Linked DNA regions of Homo sapiens: region 1 is linked to region 2. Evidence: fine-mapped expression QTL. A gene starts in region 2. The other region holds a variant in brackets. All regions are shown on one strand. Distances are from middle to middle.

What was found.
Region 1: its variant is fine-mapped to the expression of SLC22A5 in whole blood (INTERVAL, PIP above 0.99).

The regions. Positions count from the first base shown.
Region 1 is chr5:132,293,747-132,310,567 of GRCh38, reverse strand. SLC22A4 (solute carrier family 22 member 4) reads right to left here and starts at 16,174. Exons shown (of 10, transcript NM_003059.3): 1 at 15,559-16,174. The coding sequence starts at 15,951. RefSeq lists silencers at 16,007-16,056, 16,127-16,486 and enhancers at 16,717-16,766, 16,583-16,821. The variant A/T (reference allele first, on the strand shown) is at 7,937.
Region 2 is chr5:132,359,928-132,376,155 of GRCh38, reverse strand. SLC22A5 (solute carrier family 22 member 5) reads right to left here and starts at 6,446. Exons shown (of 10, transcript NM_003060.4): 1 at 5,791-6,446. The coding sequence starts at 6,183. It overlaps MIR3936HG (MIR3936 host gene), which reads left to right and starts at 6,240. Exons shown (of 8, transcript NR_110997.1): 1 at 6,240-6,312; 2 at 9,375-9,588; 3 at 11,129-11,221; 4 at 16,040-16,076. It overlaps MIR3936 (microRNA 3936), which reads left to right and starts at 10,557; the gene lies at 10,557-10,666. RefSeq lists a silencer at 6,244-6,563.

The sequences.
Region 1 (16,821 bases), 66 kb after region 2:
CAATCCAAGGATAAATCTCAGACTGTACCCAGAGCAGGATTGCCTCGCCTGGGGCTCTTGCATGGGCTTCAGGAGAAAGGGAAATGAATCCTCTAAAACTGTATGGCCAGATTAATGTGTTCTGCCAGTCCATAGACCGGAAGTGGTAAACAGGACGTGTGCCTGCATTCATGGCCATCTCCCTCCAAAAATAATTGTCCAAAGCTTCAGATAAAAGCTTGGGTTCTGCTTCTGACTTAGAGAGATGAGCAATTGAGGCCCAAAGCCTCATGATGTGGTGTGACCCATTTTGCAGAAGATTAAACTGAGACTGTGAGAATGGGATTTGTCTGAAGTCATAGCAAGTAAATGAGCATGATAGATACCTACTTGGGCCTCAGAACCCAATCTTGTACCAGTGTCCTGCTTTGGACCTATACTCCCTAAGGCAGGACAAAATGAGCTTATTAAATATGATGCCCTACACTTCTTCAAGGAATGTGATACCAGGAGACAATTACCCAGGACTAGGAGTAGAAGGCCTCCATCACAGCCTTTAGCCTCAGACTGAGCCAAGAAGAACTCAAGATTGGTAGAGGCATTAACATGCCAACCATCATCATTCCATCTGCAGTTGAGCAGAAAAGCTCTTTCAAATATAATGTGCTCTCCTTTGTAGTCTGTCAAATATTTTTCTGTCTGGACTTTGCCTTAGGGCAGGATAGATAGGATTTAGAGATAGAAAGGAATGGAAGGCTGTTAGATGTGGAGCCAGGCATTGCATGAGCAAAGGGTAGGACTGGGAACTGGCTACTTAATTTGCAAGGTCCAGGGCAAACTGAAAATGCAGAACTCCTTGGTCAAAAATTATTAAGAATTTCAATACAGCAATGGCAAAGCATTGAAACCAAGTGTGGCGCTCTGTGTGACTGCACAGTTGCATGCCCATGAAGCTGGCCCTGGCAGGGGATCAAACCTGGCCTCCAGGAAATGAAGCAGATGCAGGAGTTCTGAATGGGGACACTGGGAAGGGGGGTGAGGTGAGGGCCATCTCCCATCATTCTCCTTCCTGTAGGCTCTGCATCGATGGCTTTCGGTCCCATTCCCTCCCTGAAGAGGGGCCCAAGAAGCCCTGTCAGCATCATGCAGCACAGGAAGAGCCATGCACACGCAGTGGCCGTTTGCCCCAAGCCCATGAGGGGTGCCATCTGCCTTTGGAGACCCTGCTTACAACCAGCAGGGGAAGGCAGCTAGACTGCATGGCTGCCCATGGTTGATTCTAGGGCTGGGCTCTCCTTTGGGGAGTTATGGTGCCGCAAGTGTCTTTTTGGAAAGCTGTGAGGGGCCTGGTATTAGGACACAGGATTGGCAGATGAAGTTCTACCTGGAGCGAAGGGCTAGAGTCCAGTAAATCAGCTGCCAGTCCTAAGAGGGGTCCTTTAGAAAAGGCTTTTCTTAGGAAACCGGCCCTGCCTGCCCCTGGGCCCTTCAGGTTTGAGGGATATGTCTTGGGTCTCCGCTAGCCAGGGCCACAAAACCTCCCTGTGGTTAACAGTGACATGGCGGGCCCAGTGGGAGACAGTGTTTTCCTTGATGGGACAGACCTGTCCCTGTGGGTCCCTGCACATGTTTGTACATACATGCACACACACATACATACACATGACCAGCTCAGAGGCTAATGGCAGATGTCCTGGTAAGGAGCTGGCTGGCATTGCTTTGGGGGTGTGCTTTCAAGTCAAATCCTAACATTTCTGAAACATAGCTTACCTCCCCTCTCCCTGCCCCTCTGATGGGGCCTCCCGGGGTTACTATGTCTGTCCCATCAGCAGGGTCCCAGACCAAGGTTCTCACAACAGAGCAGAGTGAGCTCCATTTAGCTGGGCCGCATGGCCTTCAGCTCTAATTTAAGAAACAAAAATCCAGGTGACAAGGTAATAGGGGATAGGAGGTCACTCTTGGCATAGAAGGATGTGCCGCTTCCCATGGCTCCCTATAGTAAAGGGAGTAATGGGAAAGACAGTAACAGTGTGTGGAGTGCTCACTGAGTGCCGTGTATTATCTCAGGGGATCTCAGGGTTGGCATGTGAGATGGGTACTCTTATCCTTGTTTTACAAATGAGGAAATGAAGGCACAGAGCAATAAAGCAACCAGCCCAAGTTCTCCTAGTGAATTGGTAAAAAAAAAAAAAAAAAAAAAAAAAAAAAAAAAAAAATTGCTTAATCATTGATTCAACTGACATTCAGCACCTACCTGCTCCAGGCCAGGCTCTGTGTAGGGCACAAGAAAGACATGGTCCCTGCCCTCACAAAGCTCAAGGTCAAGCATACTTTACAGGACAGATGTGCACATGTGCATGCATGAGGCCAGCAGCCCTGGGTGGGGTGGGCGCTGTTCTGGGCCACTTCACCCTTGCTCTTTGGCTAGAGAGGAAAGAGGCACCCCCTCCTCACCATCCTCCAGCAGAAGGACAGAGTTCTAAAACCTGAATAATCCGTATAATCATATTTTAGATGACTAGTGTTTGCACAGTGCTAGGCACACAGTGGGTGCTTAACAAATTGTTGAATGAATATTGAACAATTAATTAGGAGTCATAGAAAATCAGCCTGGAAAATGTGGTTCTTGGGCTGAGGAGTATCACGCATTGCACTTGGAAAATCACCCTCAGCCTTGAACTAACTCTCCAAGTAGCCAAAGTCTGGCAGTTTTAGTTTTTACCAGAGCTATAAAGGACCATAAAGATAAGTGAACCCCGTCTGACCTGCACGGAACTGAGAACGCTGGAAGGTAGCCTGGTGTTCAGCAAAGAACACAGGCTTTCTCGGGGTCTGCAACTTTGGACTGTGTGATGTTGGGCAATCCATTCACCTCTATTAGCCTGCTTCTTCACCTTCAAAAAGATGACAATAATACCTGCTCCTAGGTTTGTTGTGTGCATTGGATGGGAAATATCAGTGGAGCGTCTGACACATTACAGGCCTCATTAAATGGTAGTTCCCTTTCTACCAGGCTCATACTAGTAGAGCATTTTATTTGTCCTGAGCAAAATCATGACTTGGAACACATGGACGAATAAGCAAAGCAGGTTACACTTAAATCTGACTAAGAGAAAGAAATTCTAAGAAATAAAAATTATTCCAGTCCATTACTAAAAGCTAGAAAAGCTCTTATAAAAGGGATTTGATAAATGGAATTCAATCCCAGAGATGACTGTGAGTGAAAAATTAGCAATGGTCCTTTTAAGAATAAAAGATTGATTTCTATAGTATCCTCTCATAGTTATCCTTTATTCTAGAGAAAAGTAAGAAGTAGTAGTTAATAATGGACTATACATCCACCCCAGTTCTATCTTTGTCACTTGATTGTGACTTAAAGCTGGGAATTCCTTGACAATATGAAAAAACAAAACAAAGAAAAACAAAAACAAACATGGCTAGTTAATTACTTTTTTGTAACAACTTTATTGAGATATGATTTATACACCATAACATTTACTCTTTTAAAGTATACAAATCAATCATTTTTAGTATATTCACAGACTTCAGCAACCATCAGCAATGATCTGATTTTAGAATTTTCATCACCCTTGAAAGAAAACCCATACCTGTTAGCAGTCACTCCTCATTCGCTACTTCCTCTAGCCCCTGGAAACCACTAATCTACTTTCTGTCTCTATGAATTTGCCTATTCTGGACATTTCATATAAATGGAATCATACAATATATAGTGTTTTATGACTGGCTTCTTATACTTAGCTCCTTTTCTAAGTCCATCCATGTCATTGTGCAGTGTATCAGCACTTCATTACTTTTTATGGTTTAATAATATGCCATGGTTTGGGCTGGGTGCGGTGGGTCACACCTGTAATCCCAGCACTTTGGGAGGCCGAGGCGGGTGGGTCACCTGAGGTCAGGAGTTCAAGACCAGCCTGGGTAACATGGTGAAACCCTGTCTCTACTAAAAATGCAAAAATTAGCTGGGCACGGTGGCACGTGCCTGTAATCCCAGCTACTTGGGAGACTGAGGCAGGAGAGTTGCTTGAGCCTGGAGGTGGAGGTTGCAGTGAGCTGAGATCACACCACTGCACTCCAGCCTGGGCAACAAAGTGAGACTCCATCTCAACAACAACAACAACAACAACTATATATATATATATATATATATATATATATATATATATATATATATATATATATATATTTCACGGTTTGGGTCTACCACGTTTTCAATGATCTGTTCATCAGTTGATAAGTAGTTGGGTTGTTTCCACTTTTTGGCTACTATGAATAATGCTGCTGTGAACATTCATGTACAACATTTTGTGTGTACATGTTTTCATTTCTTTGGGGTATATACATAGTAGTGAAATTGTTGGGTCATACGGTAAGTATATACTCAACCTTTTGCAGAACTCCTAATCTGCTTTCCAAAGTGGCTACACCATTTTACAATCCCAACAGCAATGAATGAGGGTTTCAATTTCTCCACATTCCTACCAGTACTTGTTATTGTGTGTCTTTAATTTTAGTCATTGTAGTGGGTGTAAAGAGGTATCTCATTGTGGTTTTGATTGCATTTCTCTAATAACTAATGTTGAACATCTTTTGCATTGAATCTATTGATCAATTTGGAGAGCACTGCCATACTAACAATAAGTCTTCTGCTCCATGAACAGAACATGGGAAGCTTTTCCACTTGTTAAGGCCTTCTGGAATTTCTTTCAATGACATTTTATAGTTTTTAAAGTATACATTTTGCAAATTTTTGGTTAAATTTATTTCTGAAGTGCCTCCTTTAATATTTCTTGTAAGACATCACTGCTAGAAACAATTCTCTCAAGTTTTGTGTATTTTTGAATTTCTTTATCTCAGTTTTGAAAGACAGTTTTGTTGGATGCATGATTCTTGGTTGACAGTTTCTTTTTTCCTTCAGCACTTAGAATATGCCACTCCACTGCCTTCTGTCCTTTATGGTTTCTAATGAGAAGTCAAACGTTGATCTTATTGGAGTTCTCTTGTATGTACCTAGTCATATATTTGCTGCTTTCAAAATTTTCCCTTCGTTTTTGTCTCTTTTTTTATTTAAGCAGTTTTACCATGATATATCAGGGTGTGGATCTCTTTGTGATCATTCTATTTGGAGTTTGTTGAGCTTCTGAAAGGTGTAGATTAATGTTTTCCACCAAATTTGGGAAGTTTTCAGTCATTATTTCTTTGAGCATTTTTTCTGCCCTTTTCTCTCTCTCTCCTCTCCTAGTAATTCTATTATGCATATATTGCTATGTTTAATGGTGTTCCCCATTTCTCTGAGACTCTATACATTTTCTTTATTCCCTTTTTCCTCTCTGTTCTTTGGATTGCATAATTTCCAATCCTCTATCTTCAAGTTTGCTGATTCTTTCTTTTGCCTGTTCAAATCTTCTGTTAAGGCCCTTGAGTTACTTTTAAATTTCAATTATTGTATACTTTTACTCCAGAAGTTCTATTCAGTTGTTTTGTTTGTTTAAGAGACAAGGTCTCTTTCTGTTGCCCAGGCTGGGGTTGAACTCCTGGGCTTAAGCAATCCTCCTACCTCAGCCTCCTGAGTAACTGGGACTATAGGCACATGCCATCATGTCTGGCTCAGCTTTTAAAAATATAAATGTAATTTTTCTCTCTTTATTGCTATTCTCTATTTGATGCAATATTGTCATCATACTTTTAAAAGCATGACTTCCTTTCATTCTTTGAACATATTTATAATGGCTGCCTTATGCCTTAAAGTCTGTTAAAATCTGACATGTGGACCCTCTCAGGCAGTTACTGTTGCCCACGTTTTCCCCCCATGTATAGGTCATATTTTTCTGTTTCTCTGCATATCTCGTAATTTCTGGTTAAAAACTGGACATTTTAGATAATATATTGTAGAAATTAGGTACTGTCACATTCTTCCACCCCCATTTCCCTGATCTTTCTTCTTCTTCTTTTCCGAGATGAAGTCTCACTCTGTTGCCCAAGCTAGAGTACAGTGGCATGATCTCGGCTCACTGCAACCTCCACCTCCTGGGTTCCAGCAATTCTCCTGCCTCGGCCTCCTGAGTAGCTGGGATTACAGGGACCTGCCACCATGCCCAGCTAATTTTTGTATTTTTAGTAGAGATGGGGTTTCCCCACATTAGCCAGGCTGGTCTCAAACTCCCGGCCTCAGGTGATCCACCCGCCTTGGCCTCCCAAAGTGCTAGGATTACAGGCATGAGCCACCACGCCAGTCTGATCTTTCTATTAAGCTGTCTGTGTCTGCTGGTATCACACCCAGCTGTTAGCCTCACTAATTGCTAGCCAGTTGCCTCATTCATTTCAATAATGCCCTGGGGGCATATATTGTCCCACAGTCTAATCCAGTTGACGTCAAGCCTCTTTGCAGTGGTAGTTTTTGAGGCAAATCTATAAGGTTTGTTTTGACTCCAGAAGGGCTGCTCTTAGCTGTCTCTTTCTTGTTTTGTTTGTTTGTTTGTTTTCTGTTTTTTCCTGGTAAACTAGCTGCATTATGGGTTCATTTGTTGCTCTAATGGAGTTACCAGAATCCTTTTAGTTGCTTACCACTAAATTCTCCATTGTTCTTGAGAGCAATCTTAGGCTGTCCTTTCACACACTCTATTTCAAATAAAGTTCGTTCCTGTGGGGACAGCTTTAGAACTCTGTTCTTTTGGATTATCTCTCCCCGCTGGGCAAAATATCTGAGCTCCTGTTGTAGAGAGGTAGGCAGGGAAAGCGGCCCATTTATCTCAGAATGACACCCCTACTTTATGAGTCAGACACTGAGTGGAAGTGGGAGCTTGGTGTGGAATCTCTGCCGTATGAATGAGCTGGGATAAGGGCAATCAAGGCTCTAATATTCTCAACTTGTGGCACCTGGAGTAGAGTCTCTACTATATGAATAGGCGGTGGGTGGAGGATGGGAACCTATGATCCCCTGGTTGCACTCACGAGGATTTTACCTTCTGTGGTTTGGAGCTAAGAGAATACAGGGATGGGTGGGGGATGGGCATTGGTTGTCCCTCTTGGTGGGCTGCTGTAGCCCTTCCTTGGAAGCTGATGGGAGAGAGAACAGTATTTTCTTGGCCATACCCACCTAGAGTGGAACTTCCATTTTTCTTGTGCTGGGAGGAAGGGGAAGGGGAGGGCTGAAGGAGTTATGACTCAAATATCATAGACTTCACTGTTCTTGCCAAGGTATAGTCGACTTTCTTGAATAAATATATGCCCTTAGGACAACTTCCAGAGACTCTAAATGTGTGTGTGTGTGTGTGTATTTTCACCAGTTATGGCTGTTTCACTGAGGAGCTGGTCTATGGCGCTGGCGCTCCTCACACTGCTAACTTCGAAGTCTCAGAATCTTTTCATGTGCTAATTGATTTGTATTTCTTTGGCAAAACATCTATTCTCCAAAATGGGCAAATGATTTTATCCATTTTTAAATCAGGTTGTCTTTTTATTGCTGAGTTATCAGAGTTATTTTTATATTCTAGATACAAATCCTTTATCAGATATATGATTTGTCAATATTTTCTCCCATTTTGTGGGTTATCTTTTTGGCTGTTTAATTCTTCTACTCATATTTTCATTTACAAACAACTAAGCCAGAAGGCTGCTAAGCCTTAAAATGTTCTCAGTATCTTTCTTTCTTTATATTAGAAAAGCTACCACAGATGGAAAAGCCTCACTGATGAGTTCTGTGATCATTGGAGGCTAAACCAAAGCAGAAGAACCAGTGAGTGTGAGTGGGAAGATAGGGATGGGAGTGGAGGGGCTGTGGGAAGGAGAAGGGTCACTCAGGGACCTGGCTGTGCCCCTTGCATCCTGACAATGGATCCACCACAGCTCTACCAGTCTGTATTAGGGGAACATGAGCAAATGGCATCGTGTCTGTGCCAGTCACCAAGCACTGAGGGGAAGCTCTGGAAGTTGCCGCCTG[A/T]ACCTGCCCTCCAGTCTTGCAAATGCTGAGCAGGAGCCACCAGCCTTGGACTGTCTGTGCTTCTTGCTAGAGCATGTGGGTCATTCCAGCCTTTCCCCAGAACGTCCATTCTCTCCACACCTTCTTCATTCCAAATGGGGATCCTTGCCTTTCTTTTGGACTCCAGAGACATGCATAAAACCACAACACAGCTTTAGAAAACAAGGCACACCTGTATTAGTCTTACACCTAAATTGAATGCAGCCTGCCATAAGGGAGGAATTACAGTCCTTCTAGAGGCCCAAGGTACCTGCAGCTCCCCCTGACCAGTCCTGTCAAAGCCTTGTTTTTGTCAAAATGCCACCTTGGACTCTGTCTGAGAGTTCTGCTGCCCACCAAGAGGGATGGACAAAGTCTGTTTATCCAGAAACTTGGCAGGAGGTGCAGGTGAAGCAGCCTCTGAACAAAAGCATATTCTGAGATCCTGGTGGCTGTTGTCAGAGGAACACAGCAGAGAGGCAAACAGTTTGGGGTGAGGCAGCTGATAAACAAACAGGGAAGCACATTCAGGCCAGAGCAAGGGGAAGCCCCTGAGTCTCCTCTATGTGCTCTCTGGCAAGATCTACTTTCTGAAGCATTGACTGGAAATAGAAGTCTCGCCGGGCTGGCTGGAGCCAGAGGCCCCCACACCTTATCCCCTTTGGAATCTGCCAGAGGGCAGGTCTGAGTATGGACTTGGATGATCAACTTGGTTAATATTCAGGCTATCTTGACAGTCTCCACACCCGTGAGCAATGTCCCAGGGCAGCCTGCAGGCCTGATAGAAACTCCACAAACCTGCCTATCACGGAAGGTTTTCCCCTTTTGTCGGGGCCTACCCAGACCCCAGGGGAGGTGCATCCTTGAGAGCCGCTATGTGAAGTCCCACATAGTGGCAGCCGCATGTGAGGGTTAGTCTGTTTCATTATTCCCTTGCTTGCTGCTCTCAGTGCCTCCCAGAAGTTCCCCGTTAGCAGGGGAAGAGGCCTTATCCTTCGCCACATAACCTGGCTCGCCTCTGGGTTATGGGTGGGGAATCAGTAAGTCCTACTGCTGTTCAGGCCCTGACCCCAGTTCCCAGGAAAGCACAAGGCTAGTGCCACCAGAGGTCCAGGCCCTTTGCTGGAGGCTCCATCAACTCCACTACCAGTGGGCTACCAGCAGCTCCACTAGGGTTCCTAGAGGAGGCAGCCCAGCTGCAGAAGAGGACAGGAGGATCTACGGTGTGGCAGCAGCCCTGTCTTAGATCACTGGTGGCCTGCAAAGAAGGCTGGTCCTTAACACACAAGGTTCCCCCAGGGCCTCTGGAGCACAAGACCTGGCAGAAGTGGTATCCAGCTTAGAGGTGACTGCCTCAGTTTTCCCAGCCCATGGACTGATGGGAAGGTCAAGACCCTAATGATGCTCCATGGGAGAAGAGGACATGCTTGAGGCAAAGGCCAGCCCATGCTTAGCCCCTGGCCACGAGCCAGGATTGCCTCTGCTGCTTGCCCTGTGGCCCTGCAGATGAACTTAGGCCCTCTCCAGAGCAGAGCATTTGTTGCCCTTCCTGCTCCTTTAGCCTCAGGGCAGGAGGCTGCCGGGTTTCCTCACACGCAGGGCCTCTTCTCTCTGAGGTCTTGGCCCTGAGGGCTATATATGAAGGGCCATGCCCATGGAGACTGAGATCTGACCCCTGCAGTAGGTCTCAGGGATGAGGACCCCAGCATCAGACACTCTGGGTTGCTTGGGGCACTTCCTTCCCCAACAGAAGCTTCAGTCCCAACCCAGGTCCCACCAGTCCCTGCTTGCGTTCCTGCTCAACTGCTGCCTGATGGAAAACTTAGCAACGAGCTGTGACTGGCACTCCTCCCGCAGGGGTAAACACAGACTCCTCTAGCCCTGACTGCAGAGACAGATAAAGGCCCTTACCCTGGATATCTACATTCTCTATCCTTAAAGTGAAAAATAACTTGGTTTGAGCTAGAATAACTGGAGCAACAAAATAAAGATGGATAGCATTAGTTTATAACTGATGAAATAAAATAAGTATGTATGAACCTGTACTGATATAAGTTAACAATTGCATACATTAATAAATAGATGTGGAGGGGAAGCTCTTCTTCTCAGAAGAATTCCAATTAATAAATGTTGAAGGAATCAGAAAATGCAAAATCATCACTAGGCAAACTGCAGTAATAATTGTTTCAGTCAAGACCTAGTGATGAATGCTAAAATCAGTGAATAAAAATTTGAGGAGACACAGGATTTTGTATAATCTCGAAGAACCTCCCTTAAGATATTTATTAGTGACAGAGGAAAAAATAGTACCTTTACAGCAGAGAAATTCCACAGACACCAACTTGACAAATGATCAAGGTTAACATCACCAGTAATAAGACACATCAGCATCATGTACCCACTGGTATGATGCCCAGAGAATGCATCACTTCTAAGGTATCATTACCAAAAAGTGCATAACGCAATCTAATTGTGAGAAAAATCATGCCAACCCAAACTGAGGAGCATTCATCAAAATACTCATAAAAATGTCAAGATCATGAAAGATAAGGAAAGACTAAGGAACAATCACAGATTGGAGACTGAGACATGACAACTAAATACAACATGGGATTTTGGATGGGATCCTACGATAGAAAAAGGGCAGTAGTAGAAAAACTGGTGAAATCCAAACAAAGTCTGTAGTTCAGTTATTACTATTGTAACCAATGTTAATTTCCTGGTTTGGATAAATGCATAACGCGTATTTAAATTGTTAACATCAGAGAAAGCTAGATGAAGGGTATATGTGAAATCTCTGTACTATTTTCAAACTTCTCTCTAAATCAAAAGTTATTTCAAAATAAAGTTAAAAAATAATCGCCAGGCGCGGTGGCTCACGCCTGTAATCCCAACACTTTGGGAGGCCGAGGCAGGTGGATCACCTTAGGTCAGGAGTTCGAGACCAGCCTGGCCAACATGGTGAAACCCTGTCTCTACTAAAAATACAAAAAACAAACAAACAAACAAACAAAAAACTAGCCGGGCATGGTAGCAGGCCCCTGTAATCCCAGCTACTCGGGAGGCTGAGGCAGGAGAATCGCTTGAACCAAGGAGGCAGAGGTTGCAGTGAGCCGAGATGGCACCATTGCACTCCTCCACCCTGGGCAACAAGAACGAAGAAAGAAACTCCATCTCAAAAAAATAAAATAAAATAAAATAAAATAAAATAAAATAAAACGAAAAATAATTTGACTCTTAGTAACTGCACAGGTTGAAAAACTTGGACCTCACAATCAACCCCTGAAGAAGGAAACTACCTTATACACATGTACACACACAGACGAATGCACTCACGCAAACCCCAACTCAGACACCTTATTGCTACCTCCTGGCATACTATGAAAGGCATTTCTACAGCACAGCATGCCATCCTTGGTTCCTGGCTAACCCTGTCCTCCTGTGAAGAGGTGTTGGGGGGCAGTTCAGGCAGACTTGTCTGTCCCCAAAGATATGCCCATTGGGAGATCCTGGCACGGCAGTATAAGGCAAAGACACAATCTGAGGACAGTCCCACTACCTGTGTTGTGCCAACTGGGATGCAGAGAACCTTCTCAGGGGCCCTGGGCTTGGCCCTGTACACTGGCACTGGCCAAGTCAGTATGGGTTTGGACTTGTGTTCTATTCTCTGAGGCTTGGAACTGCCACTGTGGGGAGAGGGGCTCAGCCTCCAGCAAGTCCCATCACCTATTACACAGGCCACAACCTGGACTTTAGAACAGCTCCCACCATGCCCACTGTCCCCAGCCAGTGGAGAAGGCAAAGAAGGTGCTGAGCTTCTGCCTTTACCACTCCTCACCACCACCTAGGAAGCCCATTTGCTGGTGCCACACTCTTTGCTGGTGCCACACTCTGTGCTGGCCACCACCGGATGGGGCATGGGGCATTATCTCACTGAGTCCTCCCAACAACTCAGATAAGGTGGCTTCTCTTATTATCCCCATTTTGAAAACTGAGATAAAGTACACATAATATACAGTTTACCATCTTAGCCATTTTTAAGTGTACAGTTCAGAAGCGTTCACACTGTTGTGCAATCAATCTCCAACACTACTTTCATCTTACAAAACTGAAACTCTATACCCATGAAACAACGACTCCCTACTCCTTCCTTCTTCCAGTCCCTGGCAACCACCATTTACTTTCTGCTTCTGTGAGTGTGACTACTCCTGTAGTGAAATCAGAAAATAATTTGTCTTGTGACTGGCTTATTTCACTAAGCGTAGTCTCCTCAAGGTTTATCCACGTTGTAGCATGTCCTTCCTTTTTAAAGCTGAATAATCGTCCATTGTACGCATATACCACATTATGTTTATCCATTTGTCTGTGGAAGGACACTTGGGTTGCTTTCACCTTTTGACTATTGTGAATAATGCTACCATAGACATGGTGTACAAATATCTCTTTGAAACCCTGTTTCAATTATTTTAGACATATATCCAGAATTAGTATTGCTGGATCATATGGTGATTCTATTTTTAATTTTTTTAGGGACCACCACATTATTTTCCATAGTGGCTGCACCATTTTACACTCCCACTAGGAATGAACAAGGGTTTCAATTTCTCTACATCCTCACTAACACTTGTTATTTTCTGTGTTTAAAAACAACAACAACACTTTTTTAGAGGTGGGGTCTTGCCCTGTCACCCAGGCTGGAGTGCAGAGATATGGTCATAGCTCACTGCAACCTCAAACTCTTGGGCTCAAGTGATCCTCCTGCCCCAGCCTCCTGAGAAGCTGGAACTACAGTCACATGCCCTCATGCCTGGCTAATTTTTTATTTATTTTTTGTAGAGATGGGGTCTTACTATGTTGCCCAGTGCTGTCTTGAACTCCTGCCCCCTAGCAATCCTCCTGCCTCGGCCTCCCAAAGTGGATTTCTGGGTGTTTTTTTTTTCTTTTTGTAGTAACTATTTTTAAGGGTACAAAGTGGTACCTCCTTATGATTTTCATTTGCATTTCCCTAGTGATTAGTGATGTTGAGCCTCTTTTCATCGCTTGTACCCCCAATTTATAGACAAGGAAACTGAGGCTTTCATCAGTGATGTAACCTGCCTGGAGTCAGCCAGGTGGTTGGCAGTGGAGTCAAAACTGGCCCTCTACTGAGTCTGACTCCAGAACTCTGTGTGCTGCCGCCCCTCTGGGGGAGAGCCATCCATCCATCCTGCTTACCCTGGTACTTGCTTCCTTCCCTCCTCCTCCCAACCACCAGAGCCCAGTTTTTTGTTGTTGTTGTTGTTTGTTTGTTTGTTTTGAGACACAGTCTGGCTCTGTCACCCAGGCTGGAGTGCTGTGGTGTGATCTCAGCTCACTGCAACCTCCGCCTCCCAGGTTGAAGTGATTCTCCTGCCTTAGCCTCCCGAGTAGCTGGGACTACAGGGGTGCACCACCACTCCCAGCTAATTTTTGTATTTTTAGTAGAGACGGGGTTTCACCATGTTGGCCAGGCTGGTCTCAAACTCCTGACCTCAAGTAATCTGCCCGCCTCAGCCTCTCAAAGTACTGGGATTACAGGCGTGAGCCACTGTGCCCAGCCCCTAGTTGCTTTTTATTTTACTTCCACCACTCAAAAAGGAAGCCAGGAAGGGAAAAGCTGCCAAAAAAAGCAAATCCTGGTGCATGTGTGTGAATGTGTGATGATGTACATCCTTAGAGGTCCCTGTGAACAGCGTACAACATGAGTAGCTATGGACTTGGAGGCCAGCAGCTACTCACCCCTCACGCCCTACAGTGAACAAAACCAGCGAGCAATGGAAAAGCAGACAGGTCAGCCCAGCTGCCAGGGAAGGCTGCCACTCATGGGTCCAGCCTCCATAACAGGCACTGATAACACTTCCAGGAATCGACGCGGGATGAGCTGGCCCCCAGTCTCAGCTGCTCCCAGGCCATGCTGTGGGCAGGGAGTGGGCAAGCACTAGAGCCCCTGCTAGGGAAGCAAATCCAGAGAAGCATGGCCACCTTAGGGCCCAGGGTAGGTATGGTGCCAATGCTGGGGGATCCAAAGGCAGTCCCTGGGCTGAGCCCACTTCCCACAGGTGCCACAGATTCGACAACCACCACGCCTGGCTGGCCACCATTCTCTTGCAGAGGAGAGTTTCAAAACTTCCTCACTGGTCTTCTTGTTTATCATAGCAGCTAGAGTGAGCTCTTTCCAAAAGCACGAACCTGGCCTTAGAATGCTTACTATTTTCTCACTGTCCTCCGAATAAAGTCAGCTCCTCAGTATACATAGAAGGCCACTATGAACTAGCCCTTGTGGCCATTTCTAGTCTCATTTGTCATATCTGTCATCCCTTGAGTTCCAGCCACTCCGATATATGAGAATTCCATTACCTGAATTTCCCATACTCTTGCCTAGACAGGTCTTGCTCACATTTTCAGAATCAGCTAAAATCATATCACCCCTTCTTGGAGTATTTCCTCCACCTATTGTCCCACAGAGAGGGTGATTTATTTATCCCAGGTCACATAGCAAGCAAGGCAGGACTTGAATTTGGGTTCCAGAACCCTATTGCTAACCAGGGTTAATGTTAGCCTTCTCAGTAACACAGCCAGTGTGCCCCATGGGCATCTGAGGGTAGGCTCCACACACCAGATGTCCACACCTTAGTGCTCAGCACAAGGCCAGACACAATGTCTGATGACCGCTATACCGTGCTGAGGGAAAGGGATAAGGGACTAGCAGAGGCCACTCAGGTTTTTCTTGGGAGGAGCATGAGGCAGAGGAGGGACTAGCAGCAGGGAAATCCTACCTGCCTGACCAATAGCAGGCAACAGCTCCATGAGGATGCTCTCCTCAGAAGAAAGGTGTATCCTGACCCAGGTCCTTACCAGATGTGAAGCAGCAAAAGCGGGAGAAGTGTGTGTGCATCCTCATTCCTGGAACTTAGAAAACCTGCCACTAACCACGCAGGGTGCTGAGGGGCTACAGCCCCTGCCTGCCAACTCACCCTGTGCTCAGAGAGGTCCCTGAGGGCCAGGGCTTCCAGCTGGGGTTTCGCCTTCTGTGCTTCCTTGCACCCAATGAGCCTCAGGAGGCCATCTGCTGTCTTAGAGAAACTGGGGCCTCAGGAAAGGACCCCAAACCTCACAAGTATATGGTACGGCAGTACACCTCCTGATGCCTCCAGAAGTCTGTGGCCAGGGAACAGACAAGATTTGGCCCCGCCCTGCCCAGTAACAAGGTCCCTCACACCCCTCCTCCCATGCCTGGCAGGAAGGTGACTCAGGCAGTGCGTCTGGGTAGCCTGGGGCTGCGCTTCCCCCAACGCAACATCTAGGTTCTTAGGAAACTTCATTTGTTGTGAAAATCGGAAATGAAAAGACAGTTGGTGACAAACTCCTTTCTCCATCACCTCCTTATTGGACAGAAACGACCCAGGAATGCGCCTCGCGTGAGTCCTATTCTTTCTTGGGGTGCACACCCGCTGCTGGAAGTATGAACAGCAGGTTTGAGGGGGAGGGGAGCGCTGACCCGGGCACTGCGCAGGGAGTCTCAAGGGGGGCTGACGCAGAGGGAGGGTCAGGCACTCCCGGGTCAACGGTCTCGGCCTGGCACCCACCTCGGTCACGACGGTGGACAGGTAGACGTCCTGGCTGAACTCCCAGCCATCCAGGCAGCTCTCCTGCTCCAGCTGCCCCAGGTCCACGTCGCGCCCCGGCTCCAGCCCGAGCGCCGAGAAGTTGGCGATGGTGGCGAGCCGGTAGCGGCTGCAGCTGTGGGGCACCTCGCGGCCGTCCCGCAGCCGCAGCGGGACACTGTTGTTGCGCCAGGCGCTGCTCAGGTTCGCGGCGTCCGGCACTCGACAGCGGTGCTCCGGGGTCCCCGCCAGGAACACGACTGACATACCATTGAAGCCATTGGGGATGATGCTGGCGCTGAGCAGGAAGAAGATGAGGCGCTGGAAGGGCCCCCACTCGCCCAGGAAGGCGATCACCTCGTCGTAGTCCCGCATGCTTCCCACTGCCGCTCCGAAACTTGCAACTACGGGTGATGACAGCGTTCTCAGGACAGTGTCTTGTAGCTGGGGCGCTCCCCAAGGATGTTAGAACGTTCCCGGGGGACAGGCAGGCTGTTAGAAATTGGGGCGCGAAGCCGGGGACCGTTCCTGGGAAACAGGCTGAAGGCGTTGGAGCGTTCCCGGGAGCTCGCGCTGAGCTTGATGCCACTGTACACTTGGGACCACACCCCCATCCCCGGCCGGGCGCGGGGAAGGGGAGGGCGGCCCAGCCCGGGAGGCTGGGCTCCCGGCTGTCTCCGCCCTGTGCTTCGCGCGCCCGCCCGCCCCCAAGGACCTGACGGGGGCTTCCAGGCTGGGCTCAGCCATTCCGCCCGCGTGCCGGGGAAGAAGCTCGTTCTCGGTTGTCCCCAGCCACCCCCGAGCGCTGATTCCCAGACCTGGGCCCCACGTGGGAGGGCGGGCGCAAGGGAGGAGCCGAGGCCAGAGAGCGAGTTCTCGGAGGGGTCGGCCCTCGATCTGCTCGGGCCGCGTGGCCCCGGGCCCAGACCCCAGCAGGGTTCCCTCCGCGGTCTCCTCCAATCTGGAGGCTGAGCTTAGGCTGCCACGCGTGGGGCGCGGAGGGGCGAGTCAGTGGAGTCGGTTCCCGGGAAACTTCTGGGGGCGGCAGAGCGACAGGAGCGCGCCCTCTCCTGTGGCGCCTCGCGCAGGCGGCTGGCACACGCCGACAGGGAGCTCATTTCCCAACAGTCCTAGCAGAGCTGAATTCGGTCACCCCTGGCGGCGCCCGGACAGCGTCCTCAGGACAGCCAGGACCCTCATCTTGCACAGGGAAAACAGGCCCACAGCCTGGAAGGGATGAGCAAG
Region 2 (16,228 bases):
CTGCCAATCCGTCCACATATCTGTCAACCACCAGATGGACTGCAGTAGGTTCCAGGACTTGGCCAGAATCTCCCTGAGAAGAGGTGGATGAGAAGCACATAGAGTCCAGGCTAAGTACCCCCTACTTAAATTGTTTACAAAGGAGTCTAGCATTCCTTAGCTCCTGGCTCCCCAGCTGTGATTAAAGCTGCTACAGACCAGCTTATTGATGCCTCCGCCTGGCACATGGGATGGGCTATACTGGCTGATGATCACAGGTATCAATGTTAAAATGGAATGTGTGGGTTTAAGATTTGGGTCACGAGTCTAATGCTGTCACCCTTCAGCTGGCTGAGCTGTGAATGCAGGCCCAACCTGAAAACAATCTGGGAGCAACTCTGGCAAAGGGCCTAGACTTGCCCCTCTTCCTGGGGAGAAATGCACCTTTCTAGTGGTGATGGTTTCAAGGGTGTAGAGATACATGTGTGCCAAATTGCATGCTTTAGCTACATGCAGTTTTTATGTCATTTACACCTTAATAAAGCTATTAAACATTTTTAAAAAGAGGGAGAATTGTGTCTCCTATACCTCATACATAATTGGCACTGCTTTTTCAGTTATGAGAAGTAGAGAGATGACATAGTTCCCTGGGACTAAATGTTCTTACCTGTGAATTGGCAGGAAGGGAAAAAAGATAGGGTGTGTGCCCCTAAGACAGAAGTTCTTCCCTGAGGGGATGTACCTAGCCTGACCGTATCAACAGTCAGACATGCTGCTAGGTACCACATGTTACTGATTGCCATGTATTCCTATATTCCTACACACATTTTATCCTGCCTCCTGCTGAAATCAATGATGAATCCTTGCCCCACCGTTGTCAGAGCAAAGAGAAAAGGTATTTCCTATCTTTGCTATCACATCCTCTACAACTCCTGGCAGTGCCCCCTGTATAGAAGAGAGGCTCAGGAGCTCTTTGGTACATAGGTGAGTGAATGAATCGATAAATAAAAAGGTATCAACCTTCAACATCTTGGTATACTTTAGTTCTTGCTTGGCTGCCCAAAGTCGAGATGAACCCTGAACTCCTGAACTTCAATCTCCAGAATACTCTTTTTTTTCTTTTGAAACAGAGTCTTGCTCTGTCTCCCAGGCTGGAGTGCAGTGGCACAATCTCGGCTCACTGCAACCTCCACCTCCTGGGTTCAAGTGATTCTCATGCCTCAGCCTCCTGAGTGGCTGGGACTACAGGGATGCACCACCAGCCTGGCTAATTTTTGTATTTTTAGTAGAGACGGGGTTTTGCCATGTTGACCAGGCTGGTCTTGAACTCTGACCTCAGGTTATCTGCCCACCTTGGCCTCCCAAAGCCCTGGGATTACAGGCAAGAGCCACCACACCTGGCCATTTTTTTTTTTTTTGGCTCCCTGACCCCCTGCTTTGTGTCAACTGTCAGAAATTTGACCCAGGATTACAGGTGTCAGCTAGCTAGAGAGTGGCTCAATCTGACCACTCATGGCCAGATGTGTCTACTATGTACGTGCATAGTGGGCCACGGGACCCCGCAAGTGGCTTCTCTGCCTTGCCATATAGCTGCAAAAGGCTGGATGAGGGTCTGTGTGTCCCCTGAGTGAGAGAAATCAACAAAGGCGTAACAGTGAGGTTCAAGCTCCAGGTCTCTCGGGTCTCTGCTGCCCAGAGTCAGCCCCGGTCCCAGCTCCCAGGTTGCTCTGGCTTTTCCTCCAGGCAGCTTTGGGGATAACAGTGAGGGCTCTCCCATCTTCTAAGACTATCTGTCTCTACACAAGATAAGGCTGATAGAAAAGCTAGTCCAGGACAATGGGGAGGGAGTGGGAGTCCCACCCAGGACTGGGCCGAGGGCTTCTTAGAAGCAGACAGGTGGAGAGCAAGGCGATGCAGAGCAGCTTGGAAGTTTCTTTTCTTTTTCTTTTTTTTTTTTGAGACGGAGTCTTGCTCTTGTCACCCAGGCTGGCATGCAATGGTGCGATCTTGGCTACTGCAACCCCCACTTCCCAGGTTCAAGAAATTCTCCTGCCTCAGCCTCCCTCCCGAGTAGCTGGGATTACAGGCACCCACCACCACGCAGGGCTAATTTTTGTATTTTTAGCGGATACGAGGTTTCACCATGTTGGCCAGGCTGGTCTCGAACTCCTGCCTTGTGATCCACCTGCCTCAGCCTCCCAAAGTGCTGGGTTTACAGGCATGAGCCACCACACCCAGCCGGAAGTTTCTCAAGGAACCTGTCTGTCCATAGGCTGGACAGAGCTATGGTGAAACCAAAGAGCGGACAGCCCAGACAACCTCAGAAACAACCCAGGTTTCCAGCAGATGGGGCAGTCCATGGCCAAGAAGCACTGCATGATGGGTTGGCTAATTCCCCAGTACCCCAGGGATGACTGAGGGGCCAGAGGAGAGGCCAGCCGAGAACCATGTGGACCACCAAACTATTCCTGGAACATGGGGGCATAAAACTCTTTTACCTCATAAATCATTTTTATTTATTAATATTATTATTATTCTTTTGAGATGGAGTCTCGCTTTGTCGCCCAGGCTAGAGTGCAGAGGCTCGATCTCGGTTCACTGCAAAGCCCGCCTCCTGGGTTCAAGCGATTCTCCTGCTTCAGTCTCCCAAGTAGCTGGGAATACAGGCATGTGCCACCACACCCAGCTAATTTTTGTATTTTTAGTAGAGATGGAGTTTCACCATGTTGGCCAGACTGGTCTTGAACTCCCGACCTCAAGTGACCTGCTGCCTTGGCTTCCCAAAGTGCTGGGATTACAGGCGTGAGCCACCACGCCCTGCCAATATTTATTTATTAATTGCTAGCAGATTCCCTCTGCCAATCCCAACACCTCATTCCACATCCATGTGGCATCAAAGCCCCAGTCAGTGGGCAGGGGGAGTCACATTTCCTTTAAAAAATTCCAGTCAATCCTTTTCAGCCACCCTCAAGTTTCCCTTCTAAGAACTGAACTATTTTTCTTTAGTTCTCAAACTTTAGAGATGATTTCTTAAATTATTCATTAACTCATTCAATAAAAATTTTCCTGAGAACCTCCCTCTGCATCCAGAATTGTGTCAGAAATTGAGGAAGACGCAAAGATCTAAATCCACCACAAAGTTTGGTACTACATGTATGTACTTTAACTTGAACAAATTAAAAAAATCCAAACAGGACACCTGAGGTTCCAGTCTTCAGTGGAAAAAATATGACTAGTAATTCAATACCAGTGTACTTACAAACACCTTTATGTATGATTTGGGGCAGAGGGCAGGCTTAGAGACATTTAGCAGGCATGGGACTAGATGCAGTGGTCAGCAGGCCAGGTTTGGGTTGAAAGACAACAGGCCATAGAAAAAGCCATTAGAATGTTGATGCAGCAACTTCCAGCAGTAGCTGTTCACCTGGGAACAAGCAGCTCTGAACTTCAAGTCAAGCATTCCAGTAGCCCAAAACAAAGATCTAAGCATTAATCTGGCCTCCCTGCAAAGACTGACAACATATAAGTAGGTGAAAGGGCACATAACTCCTTTGAAACTGCTAAGACAGCTAAATAAATAGTCTAAATATTAAAAAACAAAAGGCTGACATTGGCAGCAAGATAAGGTCAGACCCCCTGGCACAGCTGGCCTTTGGGAGCTCATCAATGCCACCATCACTCAGCCCAATGTGGGATGGAGGCAGCAAAGCAGGAACAAGTGACTAGAGTAAGCCGGGGAACCCTCAGGGGTCAATGTAAAACTCCAAGAGATGCCATGTGCTTCTTCTTGCTTCACTACTTCCCTCTTCTTTAGGCAGCCCCAAGTAGAATTTGTAGGGATTCCTGTGTCATGTTCCCCTCTGTGGCCTCTGCCTGCAACCTCAGGGACAGCCTCTGCTTTCATAGTACTCACTGGCTTCCGGGAAGGTAACACACCCACCTGTGAGGCTAGGACCCAGGATTTGTGGCAACTGAAGGTTCCAATTTCCTGTGGATTCATGGGCCAGAAAGCACAGTTGGCTACCTCCAAGGAGTGCCTCTTTTGTCAAGCCATGATGCCTCTGGACACTGAAGCTATGTCACTAGCTAAGAAATCCCAGTGGGGCTCCGGTCACACTCCCACTACATATATGTGGAGAAAGCAGGTCCAAATGCTGGGGACATCAAATTTCCAAAAAGAAAAAACACACACATGCACACACACTTGGATCTCCCAGGGTAGCTCTCAGACTCCATTGAAGGGTGATGACGCCAAGAAGCAACACAGTTGGGATCTCCAGAGCCCCTGTAAGCCCCTCTGAGGCTCCAGGAGGGGAGGCTCAGCACCAACATCCAGCAGGGCTTGAAGCTGTGCCAGGGCCTGTGGCACTCTCCCTCTCTATGAACTCTCCCCTCTCTGTGAACTCCGCCGTCCTGCTGGGTGGTTTCTTGCTGCTGCACTGGGGCCTTCAGCTCACTATTATGCTGAGCTGAACACCCTAGGCTCACGGAGAGGCCTCCTCTTCTGGGAAGCCTTCTCTAACCTGCGAATTGGTCATCTGCACATTTAGTGAGCCTATCTATCAATGAGGGCTATTCACTGGCTACTTACTCAATGCTGCTGAAACTTCAGGGAGCTAGAGTGCCAGTGTCTAAAAAAGACACAAAACACATACATCATTAACATCATGTTCCTACATCCAGCTCCAACAACTGCTCCAACAGGTTCGGAGGGGACAGACAAAACCACCCAGAGGGAAAATCCAAGGGGATGAGAAATGAGAAAGGCTCCCCTACACCCTATGACCTAAGGCTGTATGCTTTAACTAAATCTGGCCGACAGCCTTGCCTCATAATACCTGAGAAAATATTCCAGGTCAACAAGTCACCCTGAACCCATCTTCAGATGAATGGATCTTAAAGAGTGACAACTGACGGCCTGGCGTGGTGGCTCACGGTTGTAATCCCAGCTTTGGAGGCAGAAGCAGGCAGATCACGAGGTCAAGAGATCGAGACCATCCTGGCCAACACGGTGAAACCCCGTCTCTACTAAAAACACAAAAATTAGCTGGGCGTCGTGGCTCACAGCTACTCGGAGACTGAGGCAGGAGAATCACTTGAGCCCGGAAGGCGAAGATTGCAGTGAGCCAAGAACGCACGACTGCGAAGGTTGCAGTGAGCCAAGAACACACGACTGCGCTCCAGCCTGGTGACAGAGGGAGACTCTGTCTCAAAAAAAAAAAAGACTGACAACTGACCATGGGAAAAGGCAAACAATTACTTACAGGGCATGACCAGATTGTCGTTTTTGGGTTGTGGACGGTAGGGGAAGGAGTAACTAGAGGAAAAAGGGAAGAGGCAGTTGTATACACATGCTTTATTTAACTTTTAAAAGTTCAGGAAAGAGAAGTATTTCTTCTCTTCTAAAAAGAAATCAAGAGACTAGAGGAAAAACGGGATAGCCCCTGGCCCAAGTCCTGGCTCTGCTACTTACCACCCCCAACCCCAACTAGAGTAAGTCCTGGACACACAGGGCCATAGAGCATCGCCCAGGGACCGCCAGGACCTTCCTGGTACCCTCTTCAAAGTGGCCATCAGGACGGGAGGCCAGACTGACCACCTGTGCAGGGAGGAGCACACTGTGGCTGGAGGTCACCTCGTGAAGCGTTCCCAAGCCACCTGGCTGGAGGGTCTCCATCGCTAGGGTGTTGACCGTTGGGGGAGGGGGAGTGACAGCGTCCAGTGCGCATCTGGGAGAGAGGAGCTCGGGTTCAAGGACCGCGACAGGTCCTCCGAGCCCTGGTCTCAGCCCCAGCAGGGGCCGGCACCCACCTCGGTCACAATGGTGGACAGGTAGACGTCCTGACTGAACTCCCAGCCATCCAGACAGCTCTCCTGCTCCAGCTGCCCCAGGTCCACGTCGCGCCCCGGCTCCAGCCCAAGCGCCGAGAAGTTGGCGATGGTGGCGAGCCGGTAGCGGCGGCAGCTGTGGGGCACCTCGCGGCCGTCCCGCAGCCGCAGTGGGACAGTGTGGTTGCGCCAGGCGCTGCTCAGGTTCGCGGCGTCCGGCACCCGGCAGCGGTGCTCCGGGGTCGCTATCAGGAACACGGAGGACAGGCCGGTGAAGCCATTGGGGATGATGCTGGCGCTGAGCAGGAAGAAGATGAGGCGCTGGAAGGGCCCCCACTCGCCCAGGAAGGCGGTCACCTCGTCGTAGTCCCGCATGCCGCCCTCAGAGGCCCACAGAGCGCGGCCTGGGGTCGGGGAACGCGGCGGGCTTTGCGCGTGCGCGCGGGGCACCCGCCGCCGACCAGGCAAGCCAGGCAGCAGGCGACCCAAGACCGTCCGCGGAGGGTAGGCTCGCGAGCTGACACCGCCGCCTTGGTCCTGCCGCGGCTGGCCTTACATAGGGCGCACGACCAGGGAAGGTTGCGGGCCTGGGCCGCAAGGCGCGCCCCGCTGGCAGGCAGAGCGGCGCCGGCGAAGGCGGAGCTGGGGCGGGACGCGAGGGCGCGGGGCGGGCCGGGAGTGCACCTGAGGCCCGGGCGGGGCCTGTCCTGGGGACCTGGCGAGGCCCGGCCTCTGCCAGCCAAGCCTGCTGGGGACGACCGAGGTAGCCCGGGCTCGGCTTAGGAAGGCAGCGGGACTCGAGGCCTTGGGGTCCGAGTCCGAACTCGCTCCTCTAGCGCCGGGCGGGGAGCGAGTGGGAGAGCGGCCGCGAAGCTCCAGTGTTGAAAACGCACCCCTCCCAGCTTTTTGCAAGGCCTACTTGGGGGCGGAGGTAAGGAGAAAGTCACTGGCCCAGGGTCTCACAGATAGTTGCTCTTGACACCGCCTAATCTTATAAGAGGGACGGGGATTATTTTGAACCTGGGACTGTTAACTACCCTAGTAGAGAGGCTGGGAGCTATGACTTTTCATTCTAGTCCAGATGCCCTTTCCACATTTTCGTCTGTAACAAGCCATTTTGTTCATGCAGATGTAAAAATTTAACTTCACGATTAACGATCCTAGCCTAGGGTTAAATATTCCCCACAGATTAGTTATTTCCGTGCAGAGTTTATTCAGAAGCTAACTGGAAAAAAAAAAAAAGCAGCGAGGTGATTCTAAAGCAGCAATGTTCCATAGGATAAGGAGCTACATTTGTTATGTTAACTTTTCTAGTAGCCATATTAATAAAATTGCCAGATTTAGCAAATAAAAATATAGGACTCCTAGTTAAATTTGAATTTCAGATATAGAATGAATAATTTTTAAATATTATGTCCCAAGCAGGAATATATAAAATAAAAATGTAACTGGTTGTCCTGTATTTTATTGGGCAATGCTGCATATTTAAAAAGTAAAAATAAAAGATGAAATTAACTTTAATGGTATATTTAATCAAGTATATCCAGAACATGATCATTTCATCATATAATCAATATAGAAATTATTGATATTTTACATTGTTATATGTAAATCATTGATCTTTTTTTCCCCTCCTCATACTAAATCTTAAGAATTCAGTGTGTTTCACAGGTTCTCAGGATTTGAAAAAAAAAAAAAAAGGAATCCAGTGTGTATTTTACAGCACATTTCAATTTGGACTAGCCACACTTTTTATTTTTTAATATTTATTTATTCATTTATTTATTGGAGACACGGTCCCACTGTGTCACCCAGGCTAGAGTGCAGTGGCACAATCATAGCTCACCGCAGCCCTGAACTCCTAAGCTTAAGTGGGCCTCCTGCCTCAGCCTGCTGAGTAGCTAGGACTACAGGCACATGCCACCGTGCCCAGCTAATTTTTTTATTTTTTTTATTTTACAGAGACAAGGCATCCCTGTGTTGCCCAGGCTGGTCTCAGACTCCTGGGTTTAAGCAATCCTCCCACCTCAGCCTCCCAAAATGCTGAATTACAGACGTGAGCCACTATGCCTGGCCAGACTCATTTTTTAAGTGCTCAGTAGCCACATGTAGCTATTGGTTATCTTATTGGACAGCACCATTCCTAAGGCCTTTAAGAATTTGGGCTGCTAAACTTAACAATGCAAGATATTCCTTTTTAAAATAGTAGTGGCTTAGTGATAGAAACAGAACTAAGTGTATATTTTTACAATATAATGTGTTGAGTAAAGAATATTTAATAGTCACTATATTATGAGTTGAAAATAAAGCTACAGAAAGGGAACCTAACCTGGCCAGCAGATTTTTAACAAGGAAATCTAAACATTTGCATAAAGCATAATAGACTTAAAAAAATTATGATAAAGATGTTATCACAGGACTTGTTTGTTTCTTTATACTTACTATTCACTATTCTTACTTCCTGAAGATGGATGGTTATACCTTCAGCAATGTACTTAAATCCTTCTAACATCTTATGTGAAGTTATAGTTCTTATCTAGAACTAACTGAAAAAGAAAGCAAAGCTTCTTGAAAATAAACTCCTTTTTTGTGTGCTAAAATATTATTTTAATGCTTCAAAAGAAATGAAAGCTTTTATGAGAAGAATGTTGACCTCTGTCCAGACCAAACAAGATGAAGAAGTCTTATTTTAACATTTGAGAAATATCAGTTGGGCATCAGATAACATTCCTGAAAGGGACTGAAAACAATGCAGTATACTACAAAAGAAGCTGCATATCCTTAGGAAGAAAAGAAACTATTTGTCATAGATGGCTTGTCCACATGCGCAAAGCAGAGAGCAACCTAAGATGGTGCCGTCCAGTTCCAGGTGCACTGTGATTACTATCTGAATGCCATTACTATTTAAATTGCATTTTTTTTTTGAGACAGGGTCTCCTTCTGTCACCCAGGCTGGAGTGCAGTGAGGTGGTCTTGGCTCACTGCAGCCTCAACCTCCTGGGCTCAAGCAATCCTCCCACCTGAGCCTTCCAAGTGCCTGGGACTACAGCCACGCGCCGCTACACCCAGCTATTTTTTTTGTATTTTTGGTAGAGACAGGGTTTTGCCATTTTGGCCAAGCTGGTCTCAAATTCCTGACCTCAAGTGATCCCCCCGTCTTGGCCTCCCAAAGTACTGGGATTATAGGTAGGAGCCACCATACCCAGCCTTAAATTTCATCTTTTAAAAGAGAAAGAGAGCTTAGAATCTTAATCAGTTACCTGAGGCCCTTTATCCTGCAATATTCTGAATTGGGATGTTCCTATTTTACATATTAAAAAATGTAAAACTGATTTATATGGTAGATAACCCTACAGTTCAGGGCTAGAACTTTAGATTAAATGCATTCATACCCTGGCAGATGTGGTAGCTTGCCTCCAAGATGGCACCCAATGAATGATCCCTGTACCAGGATTGGTCTATGTGACCAAAAGCATACAGCATTAGTGATGATACTTATATCACTTGGGTAATTACATTATAAAAGATGTCCATCATGGGTGTTCTTTTCCCTTTCTCTTGCTCAGAGACAAGCAAGCTGTCATGTTATAAGCAGCCCTTTGAGGGGTCCATGTGATGTCAAGGAATGAAGTCTCTAGCCAACATTTAATGAGGAACTGAGGCCCACCAACAACCTTGAGTGAGCTTGGAAGTAGCTCCTTCAGCATCAGTTGGGTGTCGAGATGACTACTGACAGCTTGACTGCAACTTCATGAGAGTCTTCTGGACCAGAACCACTCAGTTAAGTGGCTCCCAGATTCCTGATCCTCAGAAACTCTGAGAAATAATGAATGTTGGTTGTTTTAAAATGGTAAATTTTGAGGTATTATGTTATGTGGCAATAGATAGCTAATATATAAATTATTTGAATCAAACAATACGTTAAATTAAAGCTCAGAAGAATAAACATCTGTAATTCCTTAATTTGTTTTCCCTTCTATTCTACAGAATAGAATTTTACAGATGAACCTTGTAGTTACTTGTGCAATAAGAGACAGTATGTTGTATTGATTAAGTGCAGAGCCTCTGGATGTATGATAGAAGAAAGACCAATATTCAATTGCTTTCTTCTTCAATTCCAAGCTTGTGAGCTTGAGCAAATTTTAAAAGTGTTTTAAGCCTCAGTTTCCTGGGATGGTAGTGCTTAGCTCGAGCTCCTAGCATATATTAACTACAAACTAAATATTAGCTATAATTATTAGTTTTACTTTGATTATTGACTCTAAATAAATACCTTAAGAACTTTGTGTTCTCCACAGATTTGGATATGTCTGGACGTTATGTAGGCTGGAGTAGTCAGCAATTACTTGCCTGAGGAAGGGAAGGCCTCCTCCTTTAAGAAAAGAATAGGCTGGGTGCGGTGGCTCATACTTGTAATCCCAGCATTTTGGGAGGCTGAGGAGGGTGGATCACCTGAGGTCAGGAGTTTGAGACCAGCCTAAGGAACATGGTGAAACCCTGTCTCTACTAAAAATACAAAAATTAGCCAATTGTGGCACGCGCCTGTAGTCCCGGCTACTCAGGAGGCTGAGGTGAGAGGATTGCCTGAGCCTGGGAGGTGGAGGTTGCAGTGAGCCGAGATCGCGCCACTGCACTCCAGCCTGGGCAACAGAGTAAGACTCCGTCTCAAAAAAAAAAAAAAGAAAGAAAGAAAAGAGTAGAAGGCCCAAGCTTAGTCCAATATTATAGCTTCAGCATCAGAGTAGAGAATGATTCAGAGCATCTGTCCAGTGTCTGCTGTAGATCCCTCAAATCCGTGTTTGGACGCTTCTGGTAAGGGGTGTATGGCAGATGCACCCGACAGATGCACTTGGCAGCAATAACTTATGCATACCTGAAGAATGACCCTATGGTCTAAGAAGAATGTGTGTTCAGAGCTCCAAGCTAAGGAATCTGGGAGTGGCCAACCCAGATATTTCATTTCTTATCTATGACGAACTTCTGAACTGCTCCCACCCCCAGCCCATCCTGTAGAATGCAGGCCCTACGAGGCGATCAAAGCCCTTTGTTTTAGGTTAAATGAAGGTTGCCTGGTGGAGGTTGCTAGGGGAAAGGTGTTAAGTAAAAATGTTATATAAACTGCATGGTGTTTTTTGTTTGTTTTTGTTTTTTTGAGACAGAGTTTTTGCTCTTGTTGCCCAGGCTGGAGTGCAATGGTGCAATCTCGGCTCACTGCAACCTCCGCCTCCTGGGTTCAAGTGATTCTGCTGTCTCAGCCTCCCAAGTAGCTGGGATTACAGGTGCCCACCACCAGGCCCGGCTAATTTTTTGTATTTAGTAGAGTCAGGGTTTCCCCATGTTGGTCAGCCTGGTCTCAAACTCCTGACTTCAGGTGATCCACCTGCCTCAGCCTCCCAAAGCGCTGGGATTACAGGTATGAGCCACCACGCCTGGCCAATTGCATGCTTTTTACAAGGAGTTTTGGTTCTCCTGCCCAGCCCACTGCCACTGGACTGCCCTGTATTGTAAGTCCCCTCAATAAACCTTATGTCTCAGTTTCTGGTTCTAGGTCTCTTCTTCAGCCTCTTGAACATGGTGCCATCCCTACTGAAGTCAATGGGGTCTGACATGACTAGGGGAACTTGAACAAAATCTGAAATAGCTGTTTTTTTCTTGCCAAAATCACTGTAAGACATTATTTGCCTCAGCCCCAGAACATTGAATTATATGACCCAAGAGTGGAGAAACAGAGAAGTCTGTCTGTGTCATCAGACAATATCCCAAGTGGGATGTCATCACCCCAATGCATATTGGCATTTGGGCAGAGTAGAGCAGCGTCAGCCTAGCAAGACTTGGCACAATTCTGTTGGATTGCACAATAGAATGAGAAATCACATTTCTGCTGTTATGTGATTCTGCATTTTAACTCCAGTTTGTTTGGCCTGGACAGACAGGTAACTAGCCATGAAGACAATGGACCTTGAAACATTCTGAAGACTAGAAAAAGTATGTAATAAAATACTTTGAACAACTGTTTAAGGACTTAAATGTCCAGACTGTTTCTTTAGATGAGTGTAATTTCCAATGTGAAACCCCACAATTCGGCTTCAAGAGGTACAGGACAGTTTTTGAATTCCACAGAAAAAATTTTGCATTGCAACAAACTTGACCATCCTATTTGTGGTAGTAGAAATGTAAATTCATTCCCCTCAGAGATACCTGCAAAAATGAAATGTGAAATATTCTGCTTGCATTTTAAAGACTGGTTATTGCATTCTAGAATAGATGGAAAAGACATTAGTGAGGGCCAATATAGAAATATGAGTTTTCCCAAAAGACTTTTATGTATATATATGACATGGCAGGAAAATTGGGTCACTAGTGGTTTTTACTTCTTCGTTCATTTGGCAAACATATGAATAGACTGATGTGTGCCAAACACTGTTCCGAGTTCTGGGAACTGAGGAAAGAAACAAGCTATCTGTTTTCATGGAGCTCGTATTTTACTTGGAGGATGGAGAGGCTGACAATAAACTTGTACAAATAAATACAAACTTCAAGTAGTGGTAATTGCCAAGGTGAAAGAAAAGAGAGTAATGGTATAGAATGACAGTCATTGGGTAGCTGCTTTAGATGAATGGTAAGTGAACATGTTTCTGAGAAAGTGATATCTGAGCTGAGAGGCAAAGGACGAGAAGGAATCTGTCATGTGAAGATCTGGGAAGCAGGTGTACTAAGCAGAAGAGCAGCAAGTACAAAGACTGTGAGGTAAGGGATGTGCTCGGGGTGACTAAGTAACGGAGAGAAGACCAGCGTGACTAGAACATAGTGATCAAAGTGAGTAATGTTGGAACATAAGTCAGAGACATTGGCAGGAGGCCAGTTTTTATGGAAGCCAAATTGTCTAGTGCCTTGTAGATAGTGGCAAGGAGTTTGGATTTTATTCTAGATGGAACACTACCAGAATATTTTTTCTTTTTTGAGACAGGGTCTCACTGTCACCCAGGCTGGAGTGCAGTGGCATGATCTTGACTCTCTGCAACTTCTGCCTCCTGGGCTTAAGTGATCCTCACACCTCATCTTCCCCAGAAGCTAGGACTACACGCACCACACCTGGCTAATTTTTGTATTTTTTGTAGAGATGGGATTTTGCCATGTTGCCCAGGCTGGTCTTGAATGCTGCCCACTTTGGCCTCCCAAAGTGCTAGGATTATAGGTGTGGGCCACCGTGCCTGGCCTATCAGAGTATTTTCAGGCAGAGAAAAGCATAAGGTCTTACTTCTAGCATAAAAGGAACATTCTGGCTGCTATATAGAGAAGGGACTGTAGAGGACAAGAATGAAAGCAGGTTGACTGATTAGAAAGCATTGCAGCATTATAGGCAAGAGCTTATGATGGCCTGAACTAGAGTGGTAACTGTGGAAGAGATAAATGGATGAATTCAGAATATTTTTGGAGGAAAAAGGTGACATGATTTACTATTGGATGTGGGCATGAGGGAAGGAAATTAAGGATGACTCCTGGATTTTTAGCCTGAGCAACTTTATAGCTTTTCATGTTTGTTTTTGAAATGGGGAGATTTGATGGGGTGGGGGTTTGGGAAATTAAGAGTTTTTTATTTTTATTTTTTGCTTTTTAAAAATTGTGGTGAAATACACATAACATAAAATTTACCATTTTAACCACTCTTAAGGGCATTAAGTACATTCACATTGTGCAACCATCACCATCATCCATCTGTAGAGAACTCTTTTCATCTTGCAAAATTGAAACTCTGTACCTATTAAACACTAACTCCCCACTCCCCTCCTTACCCTAGCCCCGAAAACCCTTCTATAATACAGAAGTCTCTATGAATTTGACCACTCTCATAAGTGGAATCACATAGTATTTGTCCTTTTGTGACTCGCTTTTATTGTCACTTAGCATAATGTCTTCAAGGTTCATCCATGTTGTAGCATATGTCAGAATTTCCTTCCTTTTTAAGACTGAATAATATGCCATTATATATGTATACTACATTTTGTTTACCCATTCATCCACTGATGGACACTTGGGTTGCTTCCATCTTTTGCCTGTTGTGACTAATGCTGCTGTGAACATGTATGTACAAGTATCTATTTGAGTACTTGCTTTTAATTCTTTGGGTATATACCCAGAAGTGGAATTGCTGGATCATGTGGTAATTCTATGTTTAATTTTTTTAAGGAATTGCCATACTGTTTTCCCCGGTAGCTGTACCATTTTACATTCCCACCAACAGTGCACAAGAGTTCCAGTTTCTCCACGTCCTCGCCAATACTTGTTATTTTCTGTGGTTTTGCTGTTGTTGTTGTTTTGTTTGTTTTTGTTTTTTTACAGAAGCTATCCTAATGGGTATAAAGTGGTATTTCATTGTGGTTTTATTTGCATTTCCCTAATTATTAATTATGTTGAGCATCTTTTCATGTGCTTATTGGCAATTTATATATTTTCTTTGGAGAAATGTCTACTCAACTCTTTTGCCCATTTTAAAATCAGGTTTTTTTTTTGTTGTTGTTGAATTGTAGGAGTTCTTTACATATTTGGGATATGAACCACTTATCAGATACATGATTTGCAAATATTTTCTCCCATTCTATGCCTTTTCACTATTGATTATATCCTTTTACGCACAGAAGTTTTACATTTTTGATGTAGCCCAATTTTTCTATTTTTTCTTTTGTTGCCTGTGCAAGAGTTTTATTTTAAATGCAATTTTGGGATGTCTATTAGACATCCAAGTCAAAATGTCAAATAGACGGCTGGATATATGAGTCTGAAGGTCATAAAAGAGATCAGAATGAGATATAAATTAGGGAATCATTCACATATAGATGGTATTTAAGGCCATGGGTCTGGACAGAATCACCCAGGAGAGAAGTCATATAGGAACACATAGGTTTCCCTAGGGAATACAGTCATCTTAGAGTAAAATTCCATCGAAGGAGATCAGGAGGTCTTGGCTGAGTTAAATTTGGATAATATAAGTTATTAACTATGTTAATGTGTTCTAAGCTAGATGCCAGGTTAAGGCAGAAATTAGGAGGTCCTGGGCAAGTATCAATTTGCTCTGCTATTGTATTATTACAAGAATAATACTAACAATAGTACATGACCTCATTTCATCCTCACAATAGCTTTACGCGATTGATATTCTTGTCTTCACTTTACAGGCAAAGAAACAAAAGAGAAGTAAAGTAATTTACCCAGTTGCTATAGTTAGCATGTGGTAGGTCCATATTAGAGGTCTGGTCTGTCTGCATGATGGTTAATTTTATGAGATAGCAAGTAAAACATTATTTGTGTCTGTGTCTGTGTCTGTGAGGATGTGTTCGGAGAGGTTCACAAGCATTTGAATCAGTAGACGGAGCAAATAAGGTCCGCCCTCACCAATGTGGGCAGGCATCATCCAATTCACTGAGGACTCCTGCTCACACAGAACAAAAAGTCAGAGGATGTGCCTATAGTTCCAGCTTCTTGGAAGGCTGCGGCAGGAAGATGCTGGGGCCCAGGAGTTTGAGGCCAGCCAGGGCAACATAGCAAGACCTTTCTCTTTAAAAAAATTTTTTTTGGCTGGGTGCAGTGGCTCATGCCTGTAATCCCAGCACTTTGGGAGGCCGAGGCAGGCGGATCATGAGGTCAGGAGATCGAGACCATCCTGGCTAACATGGTGAAACCCCGTCTCTACCAAAAATACAAAAAATTAGCCGGGCGTTGTGGTGGGCACCTGTAGTACCCGCTACTCAGGAGGCTGAGGCAGGAGAATGGAGTGAACCCCGGAGGCGGAGGTTGCAATGAGTGGAGATTGCACCACTGCACTCCAGCCTGGGCGACAGATCAAGACTCCGTCTCAAAAAAAAAAAAATTTTTTTTTAAGGCATAGGAAGGGCAAATTCTCTCATTCTCTCTCTTCTTGAGCTGGGACATCCATTTTCTCCTGCCTTCAGGAAATCAGAGCTCCATGTTCTTGGATCTCCCGACTCTGGGACTTACACCTTACCCTTTTCCCCTCAGTCTTTCAGACTTGGACTGAATTACACCATCACCTTTCCTGGTTCTCCAGCTTGCAGATAGCATGTCATGGGACTTCTTAGCCTCTGTAATCATATGAGCCAGTTCATATAGTAAATCTCCTCCTATTGATCTATACCTATATCTGTAATCCTATTAGTTGGGTTTCTTTGGAAAACTCTAATACCCCCTTATCCACAGTTTTTTTTTTTTTCTGCAGTTTCAGTTATCTACGGCCAACTGGGTAAACCAAATAGGTGAGTACAGTACAATAAAATATTTTGAGAGAGAGATGCACATTTGCATGACTTCTATTACAGCATATTGTTATAATCATTCTATTTTATTAGCTATTGTTAGTCTCTTATTCTGCATAATTTATAAATTAAATTTTATCTTAGGTACGTAT